Linked DNA regions of Homo sapiens: region 2 is linked to region 1. The links come from fine-mapping of genetic effects on gene expression. Tissue or cell type: whole blood. Region 1 holds a variant in brackets; the other region holds the start of a gene. Each region is shown on its reference strand, or each on the opposite one.

Region 1 (2,500 bases):
ATATGAAATTCATTACACATAGTTCACTTGAAGTGAAAGCTAATTATAGAACAATGTTCTCCAAGGAGCTATTTATAGCCCCTCCCAAGTAGACAGCAGACAACGCATTTCCTGTATGGGTAAGCATTGTTTTATTAGTATGTTTTGTTGCAAGATTTTGGTGAGAAAAAAGCTTTTCTCAATGGCCCCAGTTGAGCACTTGTGTGGACAGTGAACACGATTCCATGGTAAAGACAACCTCATTTGATGTTGTTAATGCACATGTGCTATTACATGTTGCTTCAGATTTCTTCCTTTCCAGTCAAATAAAGGCTTTAAAGGACACTTTTATCGTGGCAACTAGGCTTGATTGTATTTTTACATTCCAGAAATTGGTAATTAAAGTCACCTTTTCTTTCTATTAGTGAGTTCCAGATGGTTCAGGGTGCCTATATCCGGGATCAGTTATTAGGGCTTTTATTTAAAGACTTTTCACTTGAGAATTTAAAATGCCAATAAGTGGCATTTTGTTTTCCTGACCCTTCATAATTCAGAGTAGTGGTCTTCAAAGTATGTTCTTTGGAAGAACAGCATCAGTGTCACCTGTGAACTTGTTAGAAATGCAAATTTAGAAGCACTACCCCAGACCTGCGGAACCTGAAACCCTGGGGTGCCAGCCCAGCAATCTCTGTCAAACAACCTTTCTGGAGATTCCAATGCACATGAAGTTCATTCGAGGTCCACTGGTTTATACAGTTGGTGATGAGGCTAGTAGGGGGTTATTCAACTCTCCTGTGGTTTGCACTAATTGTATTGATCTTCCTGTGCCAGGCCCTGGGCTAAGAGCATTAACTTATTTAATCTTCACGCCTACCCCCTGAGGGCAATTTTCTTATTATCCGATTTGACAGATGATGGAATGGAGGCCTAGAGATGTGGAGTTACTTGCATAAGGCAACATGGCTGGCAGGGAGCAGAGCCAGGTTGGACACGTGGGCCTCTCTGCCACCCACACCTGTGCTTTGAGCAGCCTACAGTTATGCTATCTTGAGGGGATACTTAGTCAAGTGATTGATAAGAATTTTAAATAAGCCTTCCTCAATTCTTCTCCCCGTTTCTCAATTCCTTGGTCCCTTCCCTTTCTCTCAGTGTCTCCTGGTCATTTCTTCTCTCTCTTGCTCTCACTGTCTCTCCCTCCCTCCCTGCTCCATGGACATGAGTACTTTAACATATGATCATCCTATCGTTGATCTCTTTCTCATTAGCTCCTCATCAGAGTACAGTTTGGTCGAGTCTAAAACATAGTGTTGAGCCACAACCTTCTGACTTCAGGGTGTGTGATGAACCAGTTGGCTTGATGTGGCTGTCAGATAAGCGGAAGCCGGCAGGGTGGGACACTGAGTTACAGGCATCCTGTAACTCCCTGTAATGTAACTCCCC[C/T]TGTAATGTACAGCAGATTTATGAACTGCAGGGGCTGTGCCTGCCACAGTGCAAAGCAAGTTCTGTAGGCATTGTTTGAACTCACTGGAGCTGGTAGTCTAAGGGAAATGACACTAACTTGGGTCACCAAGTCAAGAAGTAGATGTCTGTACTGTAACATAAAAATAAAAAATTGGCATAGGACATGGATGACAAGTGTAAAACATTAAGGTAATAGAATGAGAGCACAGAAATACACCCTTACATTTATGGTCAATTGATTTTGACAAAAGTACCAAGACAATTCAATGGGGAAGGAGTAGTCTTGTCTTCTTTTCTTTTCTTTTCTTTTTTTTTTTTTTTTTGAGACAGAGTCATGCCATATTGTCCAGGCTGGAGTGCAATGGTGTGATCTCAGCTCGCTGCAACATCCACTTCCTAGGTTCAAGCAATTCTCCTGCCTCAGCCTCCCTAATAGCTGGAATTACAGGCACACGCCACTATGCCCGGCTAATTTTTGTAGTTTTAGTAGAGATGGGGTTTCACCTTGTTGGTCAGGCTGGTTTTGAACTCCTGACCTCAGGTGATCTGCCTGCCTCGGCCTCCCAGAGTACTGGGATTACAGGCGTGAGCCTCCATGCCCAGCCAAGAGTAGTCTTTCTAACAAACAAATAGTCCTGGGACTGGATATCAAGACACAAATGAAGTTGGATCTCTACCTTGCATCATGTTCAAAAATTAACTCAAATGGATCAACTGCATAAATATAAGAGTTAAAATGATAAAATCGCCAGGAAGAAAATGTAGGTGGTAAAGCATCATGACCTTGAATTTGGCAAAGGATTCTAAAATTGGCAAAGGACTCTTGTATAACACCAAAAGCACAAGCAACCAAAGAAAAAGATACATTAGACTTCATCAGAAGTGACAACTTGTGATGATACTATCTAGAAAGTGAAAAGACAACCCATAAAGTGGGAGAAAATATTTGCAAAGCATGTATCCGATAAGGGACTTGTATCTGCAATTATAAAACTCTTATAACTCAGTAATGAAAGACAAATAATCTAATTTTAAAATAGGCAAAAGATCTGAATAGACT
Region 2 (3,021 bases), not on the chromosome of region 1:
CAGGTGGCTCAGGCTCCCTCTCCCTTCGCTGCCTAAGAAGCTTCCATCCCCTCCATGACCCAAGCCCTCTAACATGATAGATCTCCTCTACTTGAGATCTGTTATTACTCATGGGACAGTTGCTGCTCTGAAGCGAAATACTGGCTGTTTTTTGTTTGTTTGTTTTGGAGACAGAGTCTCACTCTATCCCCCAGGCCGGAGTGCAATGGCGATCTCGGCTCACTGCAACCTCCACCTCCCGGGTTCTAGCGATTCTCCTGCCTCAGCCTCCTGACTAGCTGGGATTACAGGCACCCACCACCACATCCGGCTAATTTTTGTATTTTTAGTAGAGACGTGGTTTCACCGTGTTGGTCAGGCTGGTCTCAAACTCCTGACCTCAGGTGATCAACCCACCTCAGCCTCACAAAGTGCTGGGATTACAGGCATGAGCCAAAGCACCCGGCAATGCTGGCTGTTTCTAACCCCTGTTCAGTATTTCACTTGTACATCTACCCACCTTCCCATTCGGGGTGGGCAGATGAAACTAGCAATGGACGTCTGACCTTGGGTCGGTCACTTCTCCTAAGCTTCCTGTTCCCCACTAGTAAAAAGAGGGAGGCTTAAGATGATCTACATGTTCCCCTCTGAGTAGTAATCTTCTGTGGAATTCATATTTTATCCTCCAGCACCGAGGGGCAGGGGTGTCACTCTGCCCCCACCCCCTGCCTCACCTCTTCCCCATTACTTTAGGACCTCAAAGCACTTTCACTATTAGTTCCCCTCTGTTGTCCTTTTTATTTCCCAGACAAAGGGAAATGACTCACCCCAAAGTCAACTGGAGTGGGTGGAATGGTGTCATACAAGCAAACAGGGAGTCCCTACAGACATCCCTACCTCTGTGGGAACTCCTTCCCCTGGAGGTGTTCTCCCTAAGGCGAGTAGAAGGGAAAGGGGGTCACATTTCCTTTCCTTCTCTGGACTTTGCCCTGAAGCAGAGGGCAGCCTAAGCTCCTGACTCCAGGGAAATCTCCCTCCCCGGCTTCTCTCTCTCCCGGTCACCAGTAACCTCAGGACGAGGTCAGTCCTGCAATCACGTGAAGCCCTCACGTTTGCAAGGTTTGCAGAAAGGGCCTCTTAGCTTTGATCTCCCAGACAGCAAACAAGCTTGCCAGTCCCTCCCCAGAAATTCACATGCCCCTGCCATACAGGCTTTCTAAACACGCCACCCTGACTCTTCAGCGCACCCCACCCCACCCCACTCTCAGCTCCTCCCAGGTCCCGGCAAGCGCTTTGCCAGGCAGAAAGGGGAAAGGCACGCAGTCCGCCCACTTTGTCGGTGGACTACAAATCCCGACAGTCTTGTCGTTGCGCAGGCGCGCAAGAGCTCAACGTGCCGGCTGTTGGAAAAGTGTGTCACTGGGGCACGAGGCGCTCCCTGGGATCACATGGTACCTGCTCCAGTGCCGCGTGCGGCCCGGGAACCCTGGGCTGCTGGCGCCTGCGCAGAGCCCTCTGTCCCAGGGAAAGGCTCGGGCAAAAGGCGGCTGAGATTGGCAGAGTGAAATATTACTGCCGAGGGAACGTAGCAGGGCACACGTCTCGCCTCTTTGCGACTCGGTGCCCCGTTTCTCCCCATCACCTACTTACTTCCTGGTTGCAACCTCTCTTCCTCTGGGACTTTTGCACCGGGAGCTCCAGATTCGCCACCCCGCAGCGCTGCGGAGCCGGCAGGCAGAGGCACCCCGTACACTGCAGAGACCCGACCCTCCTTGCTACCTTCTAGCCAGAACTACTGCAGGCTGATTCCCCCTACACACTCTCTCTGCTCTTCCCATGCAAAGCAGAACTCCGTTGCCTCAACGTCCAACCCTTCTGCAGGGCTGCAGTCCGGCCACCCCAAGACCTTGCTGCAGGGTGCTTCGGATCCTGATCGTGAGTCGCGGGGTCCACTCCCCGCCCTTAGCCAGTGCCCAGGGGGCAACAGCGGCGATCGCAACCTCTAGTTTGAGTCAAGGTCCAGTTTGAATGACCGCTCTCAGCTGGTGAAGACATGACGACCCTGGACTCCAACAACAACACAGGTACTGAGATTTCTTTACTATCATCTTTTCCCTGTCACTGTCTCCCCACCTCCATCTACGCCTTATAAAAAGAGGAACTTTGTAAGGGACTGGGGTGTCCCTCGGCCCGGAGATTTGCTAACGTGCTGCGGTGCTTTAGTGTGGGATTTCCAGAGCGGCTTGTTCGGGCTGGAAATGCTCTCAGAAACGCCCCATCACCACCCCTCAGAGTCCCAAAGCTCCCTTGAGCCTCGAATCCCTGGGCAGGAGGAAATGGAGAGGAGGTACGGGTGGTGAAGCGAAGAATTTAGGGGGACTGGGAGCTTTGGAACAGTGCCCCGAAACGGCCCCATCTGTCCACTACCTGCAGCTGTAGTATGCCTGGCCTCAGAAAACGGACCCCCTCCCCTCTTGTCTTCCCCCTCCTCTAGTTCCTGCAGGCGCGAGGGAATCTGAGAAGAGTGGCGCGATGGGGTTCAGGGAAGGAGGGGCTGGGAGAATCGTTCGGATCTCACTGGGGAATCCTCAGTGACAGGAGGGAGCGACACTTGAGGAGTCCAGAGCGTGGTGCCCGGCCCGAGGGAGGGCACCTACAGGGCTCCGGCCGCCGGGAGGGCTCACATGGCTCTAGAGCCGGGCCCACGTGCTGCGTTTGTTTTCATTCAGCAGAAGCCGTGGCTGCCACCCCATTGGTCGTTGCCTCCCGGCCTCGTTACATAATGAGCTCCGCCCCCCCGGTCGCCCCGGCAACGCGTGTTCCCTTCTCTCCTCCCCTAGGTTGTCCTGGCCCTGCTATCGTTCGGGGTCCAGCCCACGACCTGGTGGCCGGGGAAGGGCGGGTAGGAGGCGGGGCGACTGCTCTCGATTGACGGGAAGCGAGGAGGGCGGGGCCTCGAGTTCCGGGGTTCCTCGTTGGGGAGCCACGTGCGAGAGGCACACGTGGAGCAGGGACGTGAGGCCGGCTGAGGGCCCAGCTCCC

What was found. PIP is the estimated chance that this variant, and not a neighbour inherited with it, causes the effect. A credible set is the group of variants that fine-mapping cannot tell apart.
Region 2: NR1D1 starts here. The variant in region 1 is the best candidate, but not a certain one, in a credible set for the expression of NR1D1 in whole blood (TOPMed, PIP 0.56).

Annotation. Positions count from the first base shown.
Region 1 is chr2:100,811,232-100,813,731 of GRCh38, reverse strand. No RefSeq gene overlaps it. Among named protein-coding and RNA genes, the nearest start is that of NPAS2, 7.7 kb to the left of the region's middle. The variant C/T (reference allele first, on the strand shown) is at 1,420.
Region 2 is chr17:40,099,106-40,102,126 of GRCh38, reverse strand. It overlaps NR1D1 (nuclear receptor subfamily 1 group D member 1), which reads left to right and starts at 1,538. Exons shown (of 8, transcript NM_021724.5): 1 at 1,538-2,063. The coding sequence starts at 2,033. RefSeq lists enhancers at 1,173-1,292, 1,773-1,842, 1,308-2,291, 2,292-3,021, 2,195-3,021 and silencers at 2,624-2,713, 2,724-3,021.